Homo sapiens: one gene and its partners. The protein of the gene in region 2 interacts with the protein of the main gene of each other region in a pairwise test. Each region holds a gene or a part of one and is shown on either strand. Other genes may lie near its edges.

Region 1 (5,291 bases), about 110 Mb from region 2:
GGTACCAGTACCATGCTGTTTTGGTTGCTGCAGCCTTGTAGTATAGTTTGAAGTCAGGTAGTCTGATGCCTCCAGCTTTGTTCTTTAGGCTTAGGATTGAGTTGGCAATGCACGCTCTTGTTTGCTTCCATATGAACTTTAAAGTAGTTTTTTTTCCAATTCAGTGAAAAAAGTCATTGGTAGCTTGATGGGGATGGCATTGAATCTATAAATTACCTTGGGCAGTATGGCCATTTTCACGATATTGATTCCTCCTACCCATGAGCATGGAATGTTCTTCCATTTGTTTGTATACTCTTTTATTTCATTGAGCAGTGGTTTGTAGTTCTCCTTGAAGAGGTCCTTCACATCCCTTGTAAGTATTTTATTTTCTTTGAGGCAATTGTGAATGGGAGTTCACTCATGATTTGGCTCTCTGTTTGTCTGTTATTGGTGTATAAGAATGCTAGTGATTTTTGCACATTGATTTTGTATCCTGAGACTTTGCTGAAGTTGCCTATCAGCTTAAGGAGATTTTGGGCTGAGATGATGGGGTTTTCTAGATATTTGACCTGAAGAAGTTCTATTTTAAGGTGATTTCTACAGAAACTAATTTCATCATATTCTTATTTATTTTTTATTATTCATCTATCAAAGCCTTGGGTGTCTTACAATTCCTCAAATGTGCTAATCCTCTGAAAATATTAAGATTTAATGAAAAATAATAGAAATTATTTTGGAATACCTTCCTAGCCAAATTTCAAATCCTCAGAGTTTTTCACGGCACTGATGCAAAGAAATTACTCAGTAATTATCTGTGGAACTATTCTTGCATAGCGGTTTATACTTTACAGAGTGCTTTCACTTTCATCATCTTACTTGGTCTTCAAAATAATCCTATGAGCAAAGAAGGATGAGCACTCATAGCCTCATCTTTCAGATTAGAGAAGCTGAGACTCAAGTTGTACAATTCACTGTATAATTCAGCATACCTGGGTTGAAAGATTTGTCTCCCATCTTGCTAGATAAGTGATCCTGAATAAAAGAAGAGAAAAAGAAATAGTTAATTATGCAAGGGGAAGTTTAATTCAGGAGTTAGGTTCTAAATGTACTCGAAGTTACAGATGAAATGATGATCTCATCTGGATCCACACTGTGCATTTGTTCACTGGACAAGCTTGGCTCAGAAGAAGTCTCTTGCACAGAATGACAGGATTGTTCAATGCTGAAAAATCTAGGTCATTTGGATTGTTGCTGTATAACGGAAACTAAATTAAACAAAATGCCCTACATACGGTTCTGGTAAGCAGTAAATGGTATTATTATTATTATTATTATTATTGCTATTTTTATTAGTCCATTTTCACACTGCTGTAAAGCACTTCTCTGAGACTGAGTAGTTTATAACGGAAAGAGGTTTAATTGACTCACAGTTCCACATGGCTGGGGAAGCCTCATGAAACATACAATCATGGCAGAAGGGGAAGCAGCCACCTTCTCCACAAGACAGCAGGAGAGAGAAGAGTGAAGAAGAGCATGGAAAACTGCCTTATAAAACCATCAGATCTTGTGAGAACTCACCCACTATCACAAGAACATCATGGGGGAAACCACCCCCATGATCCAATCACCTCCTCCCTCCCTCAGCACCTGGGGATTACAAATCGAGATGAGATTTAGGTGGGGACAGACAGCTAAACCATATTACTACTACTCTAAGTTGTATTACTCTTTTCCAGTCTTGTTTAGACTACCTGGGCTTTTGTGTTTCTCCTTTGGATTTTAAATTTCCCTCACAAATTTTTCAGGCTCTCCTGATCATAAAACAGCTCCTCAGAAAATCACCAGCATACATCAGGTGCTTAATAAATGAATGTTGAAAAAAATTACAGTGTTTTTGCCATTAGCCTTTAGACGTCCATGGGAATGGTGGGGTTTACTGGATCTATCTTCACCCTTATCTTCACCGCAGGGCCAACCTGTAAATGGTGGTAAATATATAGCAATCCCTAAATCTTAGTTTATTTTCTTATACTTTTTTTCCTCTAAAATTTGCCTTCAGTACCATCTCAATGCATTAATCAAGCAATGGAGAAACAATCACAGTTGGGTAAGTTCTGATTTAATCCAGGCCTAGAAGTGCCTGCCTCTAATCAATGTGGTTCTGCCATCATTTATGGAAGCCAAAAAAAAAAAAAATAGGGGCGAGACAGAGGTAAACTTAAAAATAATAAAATAAAATATCTGTTAGGATTTTGGCAAACTTGGAGACTATTTTTCTACAATCTCACTTTACGTGAACAGTAAAAATCACTTTAATAATAAGAGCAGAGAGAAGGAAGAGCCAAAGAAAAAAGAAGGAGGAGAAGGAAGAAAAATGAAGGATAGAGGAAGGAAAGGAACATGAGAAAGCTAAATGAACAGGAAAAAGGATAAAAAGTCTATTCACCACAAAGTGGAATAAGAGGAGAGAGAAAGAATCTTACCACTAAAGGAAGGAAACCCTTTCTGCAGAATCAGGCAGCTGAAGAGAAAAAAGGAAATGGTTTTTAAAAACAAAACTCAACAGGAATAATAAATTCAGAAACTATAGATTGCATCAGTTCATTAAGAGTGTTTTCAAAATCATTTAAAATTAAAATGAATGCACAGTCACATTGCCTTGAGATACTCAAGGGAAGTTACTCATTACCAGGACAGTTGCAAAATTTTATAAAAATGTGCCATACATAATAGCAGAAAAACTAGGAAAGCACTCTCCCTTACCCCTCAAAAAAAAAAAAAAAGAAATCTATAATAACAATGCATTTGACTTCAAAGGCCTCCACTCAATGGAAATCCAATAAAATTAAATGTTATATTTAATTAAATTGAGCTGATTGATCTGACTGGGGTATAGAATTAGAAATCCAATCAGCATATATTTTCCTCTAAGTATGAGCATCTCTAAAATGTAACTTTCTCATTTTTGATATGAAAATTAAAGAAAATACATATAACTCTGAATTGGAACCAAATTAATATCATCTGTATCTGAGAAATCTTGATTTCGACATGTTTACTCAAAGCTCCTATGTGTGTGCAAACACACACACACATAGACACACACACACACACACACACACACACACACTCTTCTGGCTCTCTTCTCCAAATATACACACATGCTCCCTTTCTCAATTCCAAAAATCATTCACCATTTTGGATATGTGTGATGTGATTGTGCAGAAAAAGTCAGATGTGTATTGTGTGGGTTTTATATTCTTTTCCTTTTTTCCTGTTTTAATGATAAAAGAAAGCCTTAAGCCTTAATATAGACCTTATTCTTGAGCCTTGACCCAGTTTTAATTGCACAACTACCTCCTACCTTCTCGATTCATTCAAAGCTTTTCTTTAGCCGTTCACAGTTTGCTTTTGGTCATTTCCTATATCTAGAAGGTATCTTGTAGATATTATTAGAATGACATTTCCTAAGCTTTTAAATAAATAGAGGCCAGTATTTTCATAAGCATTATCTTCTAGGAATAAATAACTAATGTTTGGGAACAAAACAATTTCTTTACCCTAAAAGCATTTTTTTCTTCATGAAATATTAATTTTGGATCAGGTGAAATGCAGCAGCAATATTTATGATAAATGTCTCTTTGCAAGCTCAGTTTGGTAGTACTGGTGAATTCCCAGTGGAGAACAAGAGTTCTCAAGGGTAACAAGGAAATGCGATTGTTGCATTACATATTTCTAATTGTTTAAACTGCTTGTGATACCATAAGGATATTAATTATTTTTGAATTAAGACACGTGAAAATCCAGCCTATTTATAAAACAAGTCTCTGCTTCTTAAAACATTCACTCAGACCCCAGGTGGGTTCTGAGCTCAGAAGCAGGCATCCTGGTTTTAGTGCCCAAATCGAATGTATGTTCTTTGGAAATCTTATAGATACTTTCATCTGCAGAACCCTGTTTTCTTTATTTTAGTTTTCTAAAATATAGGTGTGATTCTTTAACCCTCAAATCCATTATCTTTTATTTCATGCTTTAAGTTCTGGGATACATGTGCAGAACCTGCAGGTTTGTTACGTAGGTAAACATGTGCCATGGTGGTTTGCTGCATCCATCCAACCCATCATCTAGGTTTTAAGCCCCACATGCTTTGTCCTAATTAGGTATTTGTCCTAATGCTCTCCCTCCCCTTGCCCCAAACCCCCCAACAGGCCCCAGTGTGTGATGTTCCCCTCCCTGTGTCCATGTATTCTCATGAACATGAACACGGATGAAGCTGGAGGCCATCATTCTTAGCAAACTGACACAGGAACAGAAAACCAAACACCACATGTTCTTACTCATAAATGGGGGTTGAACAATGAAATCAAATCCGTTATCTTTACAAAGCATTTTCAAACCACAAATTACTTAATGAGCTAATCAAATATAATCATTGAGACCATCCGCCCCAAAGCTGTGGGGTTGTTTGGTCCAAATAGATGGTTGAGGCAGGGGTCTCTCCACTCAGGATGTGAACCACCCTGTGCACCTCTCTTTGACATGGTCCCCTTTATACCTGGAGGAGAGTACAGTGAGCCCCGTAGGGAGACAACACACACTATTTCTCAAACTGGGGTTCATTTTGGATCCCCAAAGAGTTCCAGGTCAGGGTTAATAAATTATATGGGAACTGTATTAATGAAATGAAAGCACAGAGTTCCAACCCAAAGTAAATTCATTATGAGCATATTCTGGCCCTTTTGCCTAGGCTTTAAGCCCTGGTATACACTCAGGCAATTTTATTGCCCATGTTGGCATTTGCAATTAGATTTGCATTGGCGTCTAGCACTCAGTACAGTGGTGTTTTTTCTTGTTGGAGAAATAAGCTGGCATCATGAAAACAGGCAGCCTCTCCTTGTGGACTCCTGGAGGACCCTGGGCTCCTTTGTACCTCCACACTGCTCCACCCAACACGTCTCCTTCTGCCTGGTCCCTCCCTGACAGTGAGTCCCTGAAAGTAGGGTGTGGTCTCCTCTTGATACCTTCAGAGCTTCCTTCAGCTTCCCCACAGCAGAGTCGACTCTGGACCTATTAATATCACCCATGCCAAGTGCCCTGCTGTGACTCCGGGTTCCACAAGCAAAACTGACAGATGACACCTCAGTGTCATTCCTTTGACAGAGAGAGCTATGCATGGGCTTTATTTCTGTGGCTAACCAGGAAGAGAAACTGAAATAATTGCTACAGAAAGTGAATGCACACACACCATGAGTTGTGCTCCATTTCTGGGGCATTCCAGCTTCTCAAGGTCTCCGAATCAAGGCAAGAAG
Region 2 (5,291 bases):
AATGGCGTGAACCCGAGAGGCGGAGCTTGTAGTGAGCCAAGATCACGCCACTGCACTCCAGCCTGGGTAACAGAGCAAGACTCCATCTCAAAAAAACAAACAAACAAACAAACAAAAAAACTGCAACGCAAGCTACAAACCTAAACAGATATAAGTGAAGATCCATAAATGCTCCTGGAGGAGATAAGATTAGAAGGATTATTCAAACATTCAATGATTCCCATTTGACACACAAAACAAATGTCAGTATTTGGTCTCCCAGTTTGCACTCTTTTTCAAACAAGGCATACTGCCTTTCACCATTAGCACAAATTTTCTATTAAACTCTCAAAACTTAGAGTTATTCATCTTTAATTCTTTATTGCAATTTTACTCCATTTACACTTAACCCGTGTTACCCCTGAAGATATTTAATTTTTCCTATTAACATTACACAGAACAAAATATTTCTACCCAACATAGGAAAACTGACATCACATATCTGGTCCTGCAGACTGTTAACAAGAAATAAAAGTGAGGTAATGACATACACTAAGAACAAAAATTTGTATTTCCCAACACCATATCCTTTTAAATCTCCAAAACGATTTCTGTTCAAAGTCCAGAAAGGTGTTTCTGGTTGATTGAAACAGCTATCTTCTAAACCAGCCACAAAACCTAATGCTACCACCCTCCACCCCTCACTAACTTAGTTGCTTGAGTTTTTTGTCAAAAATAATTGGAATTTGTTTTATAATTATAGGACTACTAGGAGTCCACCTCTAACACTAACTCTAGAAAAGACACAGTCAATGTAAAATATACAAAGTTTTGCACTAAAGGCCTAAAGTGGGAGGCAGAATTAAAGAAATCAGCCTTTGGCTCTCAAAGTAAGTAAAAATATAAACATCAACTTAGTTTCAGAAATGAGGAAATAAAATATTGTAAAGAAATTAACAATAGCATTGTACTTTAACCAGATACGAAAAATAAAAATGAAAAAAAGATAGCAATGTGTCTTCATATCATTCCCTTTAGCAGATCACAAAATTCTATTAATGTTTAAATGTTCATGTGTTTCATGAACACTGTAACAAGTATTTACTCTGATGGTTATTTCTCTCTATATGAATAAGATAAATATTAATGTTAGAATTTGAGTTCCATGAAGGCAGAATTCTGTCTGTTCTATTCCCTGATTTATCTCCAGCTGAACTCTACCTAACACACAGAAGGTTCTTAATAAATAACGCAAATGAACTATGCTTCAAACGGAGAACACTCTCATTATTTGTCATACAAATAAATGAATGTCAGAAGAAATTTCGTGACAACTATATCTAAAAAACTATAGAATATACTATACCATGTCAGAAGGGAAGAAAGTGGCAATGTTTCACTAGATTAAGATGAAGTTCCTTTCACTCTTCCTTAATTATTATGAACTAGTAATTAACAAATTACGATTTAGCCATATAATTTCATGTATCACGTATTCTATCTACTATCATTAGGCACAAAAAAAATTAAAGAAAGCTAAGAAGCAAACTGAAGAAAAGATAAGTGGATTTAAAAAGCATCAAGTAAATCACTTCTCTGCAATTTCCCCAGCTTTGTGAATCTGTGAATAACTGAGATTTTTTCATTATCAACTTTCTATAACTATTAAAATTGTTTCACACATGAATACGGATGCTCCTTAACCTATGATAGGATTACACCCTGATAAATCCATTATATGTTGAAAATATCTTAAGTCAAAAATGCATCTGATAACTCTCAACCTACCAAACATCATCGCTTAGCCTACCCTACCTTAAGCATGCTCAGAATACTTACATTAGTCTACACTTGAGCAAAAGTATCTAACACAAAGTTTATTTTATAATGAAGTGTTGAATATATCATGTAATTTATTGAATACTATATTGAAAGTAAAAAACAGAACAGTTGTATGGGTACTCAAAGTAAGGTTTCTACTAAATACATATTGCTTTCTCACCATCCTAAAGTCAAAGAATCTTAAGTTGAACTATTATAAATTGGGAAAAGTCTGTATATGAAACCATCAATATTAGCAGAAATTTAAAGGTTAAAAAGTAATAATGCAAAAACTGGTTTTGGATTTAGTTTTTGTCAAAAGCGAAAAATAAATATTTTCCTGCTGTTTGCTTACATTTATATTTAATCTCCTGTCATGTTATAATTAGCTACTTCCATTTCCATTTCCCTCAAAATATTGTAACTCTTTGGAAACAATGGTTTTCAGCCCCATTTTCCACCTGTTGAATTATATCTATCCATGCCTAAATAAAATACGTTCCTATTAAAATTCTCTAAAGGACTTATTTAAGAAATCTGTCAATCAATAATAGAACCTACAATAAAATCTTGAATTATTTGTCCAAAAGTAGAAGCCTAGATAATGTAATATCACATACCAAACAAAAATACATCTTTTTAACTTTGAATTGTGCTCTCAGGTTTGCAAGTGAATATAGCTGTATTATAGCTTCACAGTTGTAATGGAAATGTGTCTCTATGAATGATCAAAAAGAGTGTTTCAATACCATAGTTCCCTAATTAATATCATGATCAATTACTTTAACGATGAAGAAAGAAAGTGACTCAGGTTTTTGAAAAGTCCAGTAAGAAATCAGTGAAGAGCACCAAAATGGTCCAAGTAGAAAGACTAAAGCCTTCTCTTTTATTAAAGTGTAAACTGGGAATGCAAAGTGATTGGCTCCTTCTGTCAATCAGAAAAGCAGGGCTGGTATGGTTTTTACACACAGCTCTAATTGCTTCTTCTTCCTCTTCAATTAGCTAATAACTGAGAATCACACAGGAAAAAGAAAAAATAAAAGAAACAATTGAATAAAAGAATTATTTTTCAGGAAAATCTATGATACCATAGAGAAAGCTATGCTTAGGATCAGAATATATCAAAAATACAGTAATCAGACATGATTTTTAAACATTCAACATTCAGGTATCAGAAATTTACATATGAATTTCAATAAATTATAAATTACATACCTTGGTTACATCAGATTAAGTTCACCTCAGACTAAGCTCTTTGAAAGTTATTGGTAGGTGTCAATAAACCTAAATAGCTTATGAAATTACTTATCACAAAGAAATGAAAATTCTGCTCTGCCACTAGTATCTTCAGAAAAAGCAGTAAGAAGAAAAGAGTTGCTTATGTACAGTTTTAATTCTATTAAAAGGTATAGTTTTATATTAAAGACTACATTATTTATTCTGTACAGTGATTCCATATTGAACACTCTCCATCAAACCTTGCATCTCACATGCCACAGGCATCAACTAACAGATTTCCTCATTAATTTAAGAATGATACAACAGTTTTAACGCTGACTTTGATGGCTAACAACAAAAGATAATAGATTTGCCTTTAGTTTTATTGGACTAAATTTACATATTAAAGAGTCTACAAGAATATCACACCTCTCAAAGATACATCCCTTTGGCTGACTTTAATAAATTCCTCCCATATTTGAATTCTGTACCATCCCTAACTCTCATTCTAGAATACCACTCCCTCTATCACTATATGGGTAATCTGAAAACCACACTCAAACCACACTGTGACACAACTCCTGTTCTCCAGCTTTGCCATACATAACCTTCTAAACCCCTCCTCTTCCCATCAAGTCCCCCAGAGAATTTCTAAGATTACTAACACATACACACACACACACACACACACACACACATACACACACACACATTTAAAATCTCAGCCCTGCCATTTACTAGTCTGTAACCTTGAACAATTTATTTAGCCTCTCTGTACCTTAGTTTCCTCATCTATAAAATGGGAGTAGTAACTACCTCACAGGATTATTATGAGGATTAAATGATCTAATATTTGTAAAGCACTTAGAATAATGACTGACACTTACTGTTTACTGTAATTACTATTAAATATTTTCAATATTACTTTCAAAATGTATAGATTTCACCCCATTAGATTTGAGGATATCATAAAAACAAACATCACTCTTTTTAGAGTGATTCAAATCTCTCCTAGAAACACACTCAAGCAGAAGAGAGCCACACACACACACACACACAAACCTCCAGTGCACAGTATACCAGAATCTTTGGAGAACAAACTTTTGCCCGCTAAGAATGTTATTGTAGAGAAAAAGCTTATGGCAAAATGGGTAATTCAAGCAGAAGTGAAGCACAAACTAACAATTTGCCTGCTACTTTTACAATGAGCAGAGGCATGATATGCAAAAAAAAATGTTTTCAAGGAATTATATTTTCTTGAACAGATTTGAATCTGAAACCACTCTGGAAAGCAACTTGCTCACTTCCTGGACCAATCCATTTACCATGGAAAAAAAGCTTTGCTGAAGTTAGGAAAAAACACTTTCTTTGTACCACTCACTAAAAGTAAAAGTAGTAAGATGATCCCAAATGTTCGCTATTTTATAAATTCACATACTTCTAAATACCAGTTTTTCAATTAGTTAGTTAATAGGAGAATAAATCCCAAAACTCATCAGCAAATTTTCTTCAGATTCTCAGTGGCCAATAATCTCCTTTAAAGAAAACCTTTCTTACTTAAAAAAATACTACTACTATAAGGAAAAAAATAAAAAGATACTAGATGCTATACTGATAATTACTCTAAGTTCAGTTCACCCTCTGAAAATGTAACCTATTTCCAGACAGCTAAATGTGCTTCTCTACCATAAGAACAAATTTCCCTTACCATTTATAGGCAATGTAAGTAACATTATGTTATTAAGTAAAATTAAGATACACTTTTAATCCATTTTAATCCATATGCTGTGCAATACCAAAACCTAAATTTTACTTCCTTTGATATTCAAAGTAAACAGGTATACTCATAACTTCAGATTAAGGCCAAATGTACAGCACCAGTAAAAGTAACCCACAAAGTTAAAACAAAAAACTACAACTAAAAATTAATTTAATTTCAGCATAGAAATCTGAACACCATGACATTTTTATTGTTACCTTTTAAATGCTTCGGCTGGGTTTCTCTCGCACTCCCCAGGCTGTAAGAGGCTTTGGACTGCTGGATCCCTTAGCTTGTCCTCATATCCTTGGAGTAGTCCACTGCGGCAGATCTGGGCTACTAGACCTCTAATAAACCCTCCAACACACAAAGTATCAGAGTCCTGGGCTTTGCAGAAATGAAAGGCCAAAGCTTGGCGATGTAAACCTCTCTGCAAACTTGCAGGTGAACTTGGCCATAAGAGTTCAGTACATAGGGCCGTCTTGCCACTGCCAGGCCCTCCTACCAACAACAC
Region 3 (5,291 bases), on a different chromosome or scaffold from region 2:
TTCATTCTTGACGTCAGTGAGACCAAGAACCCACCAATTCCGGACACAAAGGGATGAGTCATACCACTGTCTCCTCACACCGGACATGGGATAGCCACAGCAGAAGCCACTTTATGGCCCAGAGAAATTCCAGGGAAAAAGGATTGTATTAATTGATAACATCATCAGCAATGCATGAAAGCACACATCTCCTCATACCTGGTCATTACAGGATAATCTTTACTAACTGATTAGTGGGTAGCATGTTGTTATTTGTTTTGGGATTGGTACACTTGAGCCTTTTCCAAGCTTCCATGGTTGTATATTCTCTTATTTGGAGTGGTCTGTTCATGTCCTATGGTCACTGATTTGTAGGAGATCTTTATGCCAAAGTTACTGATCTTTCTTCACTGCAAATACTTGTTCCAGTCATTACTTTTTTATTGGAAAGCGTCAGATTATACACAGAAATTCCAGGCAGACTAAAATGTTTTCCAAAATAATAGAAAATTTGAAGAGAACCAAGTTTCAAATTCTTAATAGCTGTTAGAAGAAACAATTTTAAAAGAAATATATACGTATTTTTTGTGACAAGGTCTCTCTCTGTTGTCCAGGCTAGATAGTATGATCACAGCACACTAGTCTTGAACTCCCAATCAATCCTCCCACCTTAGCCTCCCACGTATCTGGGACTACAGGCGCAAGCCACAACACCCAGCTAATTTTTTTTTTGTAGAGACGGGTTTTCGCCATGCTGGTCTCAAAGTCCTGGGCTCAAGCGATCCACCCACTTCAGCCTCCCAAAGTGCTGGGATTACAGGTGTGAGCCATTGCACCCAGCCAAAGAGAAGTATTTAAATACCTAAAATATACAGACTTCTGAATAAAACAAATCCAAAATAAAGGTGGAATGCTGCTGACAAATCAGGCAGAAGATAATGGTTGAGAAGACTGTTATCAGCATGAAAATTCAGGGCCCTGGCCTTTGATGTTATATCCCAAAAAGGTAGATAGCCCACATGTTCCAGTAGGTCATGTGCCACCTCTTTCTCCTTGGAGAGGAGGAGGTGAGTGGCAAGAAAATGTAGCCTGGGAATCCTCCTCAGAAAGAAGGGCATTGAAGCCCACTTCCTGGCTCCGTGGACACCTGAGCCTGCATTCTCACCAGTGGATCAATGGCAGCCTGACATAGCAAGAACAGGCAGAATGATATTAAGCTCATTTTAAGAATGCAGGAAAAAAACTATACTTTTTGGAAGGATTTCCCTGAAAACCCTAGGTTATTGGAATCCAGAATAACTTGTACTGTGTAACTTACGTTGTCCTGTGATACACAGTCTTTCTAAACAAATGTTCCTGTATATTGAATTTAATTATTCTCATCTTAATTGGAATATGACTTTGTCTTTAATGATTAGAAATTGGGGCCTGAATAGTAGTGGGCACTGAGCAGCTGCCACTGAGTCACATGCCAGCTGTGGACTCAGCTAACACAGGTTGGCAGCTTCCTTTCATAGAAGATTTAAGATAGCACCACAGTGTTCTCATTTTCTCTCAATTAATATTGAGGTGACCTCAGGTTTCTGGACTTTCATCTCAGTGATCTCATCTAGGTACCTGGGTGATCTCTTGGCTCTGAAGTAACACCTCAGTAATCTCAGTTCCTCTTTGGACTGTTACCTCAGTGATCTCAGCTCCATTCTGAAGTAACTTCTCAGTGATCATAGCTTTTCCCTAAAGTAACCTCTTTCTAAAGCATCACCCCTAGTGATCTCAACCTTTCTCTGAAGAATCACCTTAGTGATTTCAGCCACCTCTGAAGTTAACACCTGTGTGATCTCAACTCCAGTGAACAACTCAGTTATTTCATCTCCTTTCTAAAGTTAACAGCTTAGTGATCTCATTTCCTTTCTGAAGAATCACATCAGCAGTCTCAGCCTCTCTTAAGTAACATCTCTGTGATCTCAGCTTCTAACACCTGAGGGACACCATCTTGGTCCTGAATAATACCTCAGTAACCTCAGCTCCTCCCTTAAGTAACATCTCATTGGTATCAGCTTTTCTCTGAAGCAGAACCTCAGTGATCTCAGCTCCTAAGTAACATCTCAGCATTCTCATCTTTCCGATGGTACAATATAGTGATTTCACTTCCTTTATGAAATAGCACTCAGTGACCTCCATTCTTCTAGAGTTTCACATTAGTGATTTCAACTTCTCTGAAGAAACACCTCTGTGATCTCAGCTTCTCTGAAGAATTACCTCAATGATCTAATCTCTAAAGTAATACCTTAGTGATCCCATTTCCGTTATTTCAGCTCCTCTGAAGTAAACCTCAGTGGTCAGAGCTACTCTGCAGTACCCACTAGTGATGTCAATTCCTTTCAGAAGTAACACCCAGTGATCTCACCTCCTCTCTGATGAAACACCTCAGTGTACTCAGATCCTCTGAAGTAACAAAAATTGTCTCACTTTCTTTCTGAAGTGACGCCTCAGTGATCTCAGCTCTTCTCCAAAGAAACAGTTAAGCTCTTGTCTTCTCTGAACTAACACCTTAGTTATTTTATCTATCTGAAACAACACCTCACAGAATGGCAACACCTCTAAGGTTAACACCTTGGTTATCTGAGCTATCTGAGGTTTCACTTCAGTGATCTCAGTCCCTCTGAAGTAACACCTCAGTAATATTAGTTCCTCTGGAATTTCACTTCAGTGGTTTCAGTTGCTCTGAAGTAAAACACCAGTGATGTCAGCTCCTTTCTCAAGTTAACCAATCAGTTACCAGTTCCTCTCTGGAGTTAATAATTCACTGTTGTCAGTGTCTGTACATAGAAGGGGGAACAAGCTTTTGTCTACATCGTGGTGTTTTGCTGTGGACTTAAGGATCAATGCCTGGATGGGCACAGCAGCTCATGCCTGTAATCCTAACCTTTTGGGAAGGTGAGGTGGGAGGACTGCTTCAGCCCAGGAGTTTGAGGCAGCGGTGAGCCATGATGGCACCACTGCACTCCAACCTGGTGACAGAGCAAGACCGTCTTTAAAACAAACAAAAAGGATCAATATCCTGGTGACTATTTCCTCCCCACCAAACTGACAGATGTTGGGGGCGGGGGCCTGGGGTGAAGACAGCCCTTCTCTATCTCAGGCACTTAACATGTTGAGAATTTCAAGTGGCTTGAACCTCATACATTTGTTTCGTTTGCAGCTGGCTGCTACTAGAAATGGTTCTGATTCGGTTTCAAGAACTGTATCCTTGGCCGGGTGCGGTGGCACACGCCTGTAATCCCAGCACTTTGGGAGGCCGAGGCGGGCGGATCACCTGAGGTCAGGAGTTTGAGACCAGCCTGGCCAACATGGTGAAACCTCATCTCTACTAAAAATACGAAAATTAGTCGGGCGTGGTAGCAGGTGCCTGTAATTCCAGCTACTTGGGAGGCAGAGGCAGGAGAATTGCTTGAACCTGGGAGGTGGAGATTGCAGTGAGCTGAGATTGTGCCATTGCACTTCAGCCTGGGGAACAAGAGCAAGACTTTGTCTCAAAAAAAAAAAAAAAAGTATGCTTAAAACAGAACAAATAATTCTGAATACAAATTTTTAATTATGAATAAACTAGATTCATCTTCATCATAGTAATATGGCAATGGATACTGGACTCTTGAACCAGGAGTAAAAAAATGAAAAAAAAAACCCCTTCAAATATAGGAATAGAAATACTAGAGATAGTAAAAAAGAGCTATCTGAATTTGAGAAATGTATGTTTTAAATATATCTACCAAAGAACAGTATTTTCAGCATTGTTTTGGGGGAAATACCATAAGATGTAAAGAGGTACCCACTTGGTGTAACAGCTATGAGGTCTGCTGAGTGTGAAGCTCCCCTCCTTTGCCTGCATGGGAATTGAGACATCTCACGGTTTCTGGGGCACAGGATCTGCAGGTCATAAGGGCAAGTTTTGAGGAAAATACCCATTTTTGAGTTGAATTTTTACTAAAAAGTTAGCATAACCTTTCTGATCTTGAATAAAGTTAAAAGCTCCAGATAAAGGGTTTTCTAGGCCAGGCATGGTGCCTCACGCCTGTAATCCCAACACTTTCGGAAGCAAAGGTGGGAGGATCACTTGAGGCCAGGAGTTCGAGACCAGCCTGGCCAACACGGTGAAACTCCGTCTCTACTAAAAATACAAAAATTAGCCAGGTGTGGTGGCGCATATCTATAATCCTAGTTACTTGGGAGACTGAGGCACAAGAAAAGCTTGAACCTGGGGTGGGGGCGGAGACTGCAGTGAGCCAAGATCATGCCACTGCACTGCAGCTTGGGCAACAGAGCAAGACTATCTCCACACACACATACAAAAAGTTTTTTAAATTTATGTAATTTCTCACTAATATATAAGCTTTTTCCTTGTTTCATACAAAACAGGACTCCACACACTTAGGATGGAAATCCACACACTTAGGATTTCCAACCATTTTACATGATGCTTGATGAAAATATCTTTTTATATCACTTTATCCATACAATACTTTAGTCTTTTAAGAGAATACTGAAAATAGTCCGACTTTCAAATTTTAAGTGCAATAATTAGTATGGTTAATTGATATTTAGGAAGGGCATGTAATGTTCTTAGAAAAAGAACTTTATTTGGAATGTAAGATTTTATTGGGATAATGGTTCTTATGCCTTAAATTCCCTTAGTTCAAATAAACTAATGTTAAAGAATTATGGCTGTTTTTTACCAAAATTCTCTACAATTGTATGATTACTCTCCAACATAACTTCAAGATGTTGAGGAAAATAAAACAGGTAGTCTCTGAAGTTTTTCCACAGGAACAGCACGCTAAGTGCTTCTTTCTGGAGTTATTTTGTGACACTGAATCGCCAAAGAAAAGCTTCCTATAGAGTTAACAGAGACTTCTCTTGGGCTGAAGGCTGCTTGTGGTTCCACATGCAGTTTCTGTGAGAATGGATTCTTGTGTCAGCCATGGGTCACAACTTTCTGTGCACTTTCTGGTGCTGGATTAGGTGGCCATGCTGGTTGAAGGCACGCCCACACTCCCCGCACTCATAGGGCTTCTCGCCTGTGTGGATCCGCTGGTGCTGGATGAGCACTGAGTACTGGCTGAAGGCCTTCCCGCAGCTATTGCACTCATATGGCTTCTCGCCCGTGTGGGTCCTCAGGTGCACAATCAGAGTTGCTTTCAGGCTGAAGGCTTTGCCACATTCTGTGCACTGGAAGGGCTTTTCACCTGTGTGGATTCTCTCATGCTGGATCAGAGACCGGCGTGCACTGAAGGCGTGCCCACATTCACCACACA
Region 4 (5,291 bases), on a different chromosome or scaffold from region 2:
GAGGCTTCAACTCCATCTAAGGAAGACCTTTCTAACAGTTAGAGCTGCTCAACAACTGAATGGACTGCTTGGTGAGGTAGAGTCACTTGGAAGTGTTCAAGGTGGAAAGATCACCCTTGTAGAAGGGACTCCTGCATTTGTTAAGAGGTTAGAGACTGGATGAACCTCAGGTCTCTTTCAATTCTGAGATTCTAGAAAATTCCCTCAGGGAATTCAGAAGAGAATTCCTAAAAGGAAAGAGAAAGCACACATATGTATACTTTTAGAATCTGCTTGATTTTTTTTTTTTTCAAAAGGTACAATAGAAAATGTAGTCCACTGTCATTAAAATGCATATTCACCTTCCTACTACTAATAATTAGGAAGGGTTCATTATGACTTCTTTATATTATAAAGAAAAGATGGGGGATTAGATTTATAATTTCTGTAAATATTTTAGAAAAAATGCTTAAAATCTAGTAGTCAATGCCCTAGAAACTTTATAGATTTGTAGATAATATGCACAGATACAAATACATTATTCATTAAATACAACTCACATCTGTGTTTTATTATACTCTAAAATATACAGGAATCTTGATGTACTGAAAGAGTGCAAGTAAATACAGTATTCAAGCAGTCACTATTTCTATGTACATGCTCATTAATTCTTCAAAAAACCCACAAAATTATCAAATAGATCAAAATACTGTTCTGTGTTTTCACACTTTATATTCAGAAAAACCAGCTGATAATTTACAATGTCATAAAGTTTCCAGTTTCACAATACAAAAAGGATAAAATGAAATTGGGTATCATTTTGTTGCAATTTATAGAACTTTACCCATACCTGTAAGACCCTCAATGTATATGAAATCATTTTCACTGGGAAAGTGACAGTTACAGTAAAAGCAGAACCACACAAATCTTTATTTAAAAGCCGAAATATCAGCCTTCTCTCTCTCTTTTGCTATTTGAAAGGTAGTCTTCAATTTGGCAGGCAACTGCTTCTCTCTCCAAATAGTAACAGGTTACAAACATGCTACTTTAAATATGAATAGGACCTAAGGCTTTAGTATTTTAAATCTTGCCCAATACAGAAATGCCTTTCAAGAGACTTTAGTGATGCTTAATTTATGAACAACAAGGAATTATTTTCCTTTTGATTATTCACTTTTTCAAAACTCATAGATCAGAATAAACAAAAAATCCCCCAACCCATGGTGGGGACACAAAAGTAACATAAGTGACTAAGGTGTGCCATTCATAGAGAGGTTGAAGACTCCATGCCCCAGGACCACTTAGCTGCAATAGGGTGAAATAGTCTACTTTTTGATTTCATGAATTTTTTTCTAGGAAATTCTTTACATTTTCAAACAAAAATAGTACTATTTTAAACCCAAACCATTCAAAACAGGGCAACAGCCTGACCCCAATCCATCTCAATGTCTATGTCACAAGTATTTTCACCCGTATTGCACCCAGTCAGCTGGTTTTTAATTCTAATAGTATAAAAATTGGAAATTTGAAATAGTTCTGTAAAAGAAAAAAATGTAAAAATACATCTGCTTTCTCTCATGGTTTAATACAGCATTGGAAGGCTTTCAGATGTTTTCTTAAAAAAAAAACAAAACCCAAAAAAACTCAACATTTAAAACCAAATCTCAGCTTCATTTCCAGAAATATTGCAGTTTGGTTTAGGTAATGTTTCATTTAATCTACTCCAGTTTCCACAAAATGGCATTTTATTAAAAAAACCTTTCAGTTATTTGGTCCTTTTGCAATTTGCTGTGCACATAATGCCTACTGTACCAAACTTTTATTGCCTTTAAATTTAGTTGTAATTTTATTGATAAAATTTAAATCTAGTGTCTTTATTTCTTCTGTTACAATAGTGTTGCTTGTGTAAGCAGGTTAGAGTGCACAGTGTCCCCAATTGTTCCTGGCACTGCAAAACCAAATTAAACAATTCCACAAAGAATTCTGACATCAATGTGTTTTCCTCAGTCAGGTCTATTTCAAGATTCTAGAAGTTCCTTTTGTAAAACTTGCCTTTAAAACTCTTCCTCCTAATGCCATCAGATCTCTTAACATTGGCTCACTGTGGGATCTTTCCTCTTAGGTTGAATTTCTACGTGAATATCAAAGTGCCTTTTTCCTGAAAAAGCACAGTTTGAAGCTTTACTGTGAGAACTCCCTCCTCCTCAGCCTCTCAGTAGGTCTCAGAATCGGAGTCGTTGAGCTCATCCACGTCAGTGTATAAGTACTCCTGTTCCCCTCCAATGTTATTGAAACTGCAATAGGAGCTAGGTTCATTCCTCATGATGGGCAAAGCTTCAAAGCTGACTGTTTTTGAGGTGTTGGTATAACGGTTAATGGCATTGAATGTTAAGGATGATAAAGGACTACTTGATGAGACAGGCATCATGGTGGCCAAAATGAGAGCCAGGCAATCAGCCACATCCTTATTGGGAGCACAGGCCAAAGCTGGGGTATAGCCTAGAATTAAAGATAAAATTTAAAAATTAAGCATCCTGAGATGTATTTCACCAAAGACAAGGAAATAAGCCTAAAGTACTTCAACTTTAGACATATTTTACATTACTTAGCTTATAATAAATTGCTGTAACCAGCATGATTCGCAAGTTTCTAATAAGTAGAAAAAGAATAGCCATAGAAACCTAGGGTGGAAGGGGATGTTAGACTAGACAACAGAAGAGGAAGCAGGCCCAGAGAAGAATGATTCCCCAAGGTCTCACAACTTATCCGTATCCATCTGAATTCACAGAAAAAACTGGGCTAGAATAAGAAAAACACCACATATCGTGAATATTCTTTCAGGATGGTAGGCAGAGATTTACTGTTAATTTGCAGTTATATCAGTGTCAAGGTAAGAAAAAATAAAAAAATTTAATTTGTAGTTATGTAAGGAAACTTTTTGATGCTAAGAAATCTTAAATGTGTACAGCTTCATGAATCAGCCACAGGGCAGGTGCTCAAAAGATATGTGTTGAATGAATGACACTTAGTTGTCAATTTAACTTTTCTCTTGGGGTCACAGTCTCTTGAAGAAAAACAGTAGACAAACTAAGCAGATGAACTTTAAAAACTACTAAATCAAAACAAATATTTCCTTTGTAAATATTCCCTTTTTTTAAGCGGAAGACAACTGACCTTAGTCGTAAGTTACCACAAAGTGTCAACACAGCAAACCAAGGAGGAAACATTTGGTACCTCAGTTGGTACAAGACTCAGTCTTGAGGACGGAGCGGGAGAGAAGTGATAATAGTGTGATGCCAAGCTTCAATTATACCATATGGAACTTTAATAGTTTTATCACATAACATACATTTGTATAACCACCATACAGATTAAGAAAGAGAACATTACCAGCATACCAGAAGCCTCCATATATCCTCTACCCAGTCGTTACACCTTTCTTCTTCCACAATGGTAACTACTATCCTGACTTATGGGGTAGTAATTTCCTTGCTTTCAACTTGGAGTCATAAACACTATAGTTTTTTTTTTGTTTTTTTTTTTTTGAGACAGAGTCTGCTCGGTCACCCAAGCTGAAGTTCAGTGGTGCAAACTTGGCTCACTGCAACCTTTGCCTCCTGGGTTCAAGTGATTCACCTGCCTCAGCCTCCTGAGTAGCTGGGATTACACGTGTGTGCCACCATGACCAGCTAATTTTTTATATTTTTAGTAGAGATGGGATTTCGCTATGTTGGCCAGGCTGGTCTCAAACTCCTGGCCTCAAGTGATCTGCCTGCCTCGGCCTCCCAAATGCTGGGATTACAGATGTGAACCACCTTACCCAGCCTACAGTTTAGAGTTTTTAAAAAACTTAATATAAATGGAATCATGTAGTATGTATTATTTCATATCTGGCATTTTTGTGTAGCATTATATGAAATTTATCAATGTTGTATGTAACTGTAGTTGGTTCATTTTCATTGTTATACAGTATTTCATTGTGTGATTATACTATGGTTTAGTTATACATTTCAACTACTGGGCATCTGGTTGCTTCCAGTTCTCCCACATATTTTCATCTATGCTATATTGGCCTTGATAAAAAAAGGATTTTTTTTTTTTTTTTTGAGACAGGGTCTTGTTCTGTCACCCAGGCTGGAGTGCAGTATAATGATCATGCTCACTGCACCCTCAACCTCTGGGCTCAAGTGATCCTCCCACCTCAGCCCCCTGACTAGCTCTGACTATAGGCACATGCCATGCCTGGCTAATTTTTAAACTTTTTTGTAGATACAGGGTCTCGCTTTGTTCCCCAGGCTGGTCTCAAACTGCTGGCTTTAAGTGATCTTCCCGCCTCTGCCTCCCAAAGTGCTGGGATTATAGGAGTAAGCCACTGTGCCCAGCCACAAAAAGTAATTTTTCCCCCTTTGTAAAGTTCCCATTTTGTCAAGGGTCAAAGAGAACAACTGATGTCCTTCCAAGTTTGGCAGCAGTGGCTGAAGGCTGTCCGTATTTTTAATTAAATTTTATTTGTTCAAAGTAGCTGGGGGAGTGCTTCACTGCCCACACTTCTTTCAAGGGTTCTTCTAAAGGTGCCTGCTGCTGTTCCTGCTGCTGGCAGGCAGAACAACCCATTACATAGGCCAGGATGCCTTGGATGAGAGCGGGAGTGGGGAAAGAAGCTTGTTTCAGGTGTGTTTTCTAGTCAGAATATGACTAAAAACAGGCTCCTCTCCTCTGCATGGGGGTTATTTTTTGAGACGAAGTCTGGCTCTGTCACCCAGGCTAGAGTGCACTGGCATGATCTCGGCTCACTGCAACTTCTGCCTCCTGGGTTCAAGCGATTCTCTTGCCTCAGCCTCCCAAGTAGCTAGGATTACAGGCACATGCCACCACACCTGGCTAATTTTTGTATTTTTAGTAGAGACGGGGTTTTGCCATGTTGGCGGGGCTGGTCTCGAACTCCTGACCTCAGGTGATCCACTCGCCTTGTGCCTCCCAAAGTGCTAGGACCATAGGCATGGGCCACCATGCCCGGCCAGTTTTATCTCTTAACATGCCACTCTCTTTGCTTAGAAAGTTCCTCCCCCACTTTCTCCTTATCCTTTGGATTTTGGCTTAGCAGTTGCATTTTTTGGGATGCCTTCTCTGATCCTGCAAGAAAGGATTTGAAGACCCTCTTAAGTACTCTCATAGCATTCTATGCTTATTCCAATTAAACTATTTTAAGTGCATCGTTAATAGGCTGTTTGCACTCTTATCTCCATTCAAGGGAGTAGACTATGTCTTATTTTACACTATATCATCAGAAGTTAGTACAGTGCTTGGCATAA

What was found.
Region 1: the proteins of ANKRD50 (region 2) and CLNK interact in a two-hybrid assay, tested with the Homo sapiens proteins (one large-scale study listed by BioGRID and IntAct).
Region 3: the proteins of ANKRD50 (region 2) and ZNF250 interact in binary tests that used the Homo sapiens proteins (3 or more experiments, as listed by UniProt).
Region 4: the proteins of ANKRD50 (region 2) and ANKRD28 interact in a two-hybrid assay, tested with the Homo sapiens proteins (one large-scale study listed by BioGRID and IntAct).

The regions. Positions count from the first base shown.
Region 1 is NC_000004.12:10,673,868-10,679,158, reverse strand, and holds part of CLNK (cytokine-dependent hematopoietic cell linker), read left to right. Parts: intron 1-5,291. UniProt on the Homo sapiens protein: An adapter protein which plays a role in the regulation of immunoreceptor signaling, including PLC-gamma-mediated B-cell antigen receptor (BCR) signaling and FC-epsilon R1-mediated mast cell degranulation.
Region 2 is NC_000004.12:124,705,005-124,710,295, forward strand, and holds part of ANKRD50 (ankyrin repeat domain-containing protein 50), read right to left. Parts: coding exon 4,996-5,291; intron 1-4,995.
Region 3 is NC_000008.11:144,876,553-144,881,843, forward strand, and holds the end of ZNF250 (zinc finger protein 250), read right to left. Parts: coding exon 4,963-5,291; 3' UTR 403-4,962; downstream 1-402. UniProt on the Homo sapiens protein: May be involved in transcriptional regulation.
Region 4 is NC_000003.12:15,668,079-15,673,369, forward strand, and holds part of ANKRD28 (serine/threonine-protein phosphatase 6 regulatory ankyrin repeat subunit A), read right to left. Parts: intron 5,113-5,291; coding exon of another isoform or gene 5,003-5,112; exon of another isoform or gene 3,556-5,002; coding exon of another isoform or gene 3,532-3,555; exon of another isoform or gene 3,282-3,531; intron 2,479-3,281; coding exon 2,192-2,478; 3' UTR 164-2,191; coding exon of another isoform or gene 1-163. UniProt on the Homo sapiens protein: Regulatory subunit of protein phosphatase 6 (PP6) that may be involved in the recognition of phosphoprotein substrates. Involved in the PP6-mediated dephosphorylation of NFKBIE opposing its degradation in response to TNF-alpha.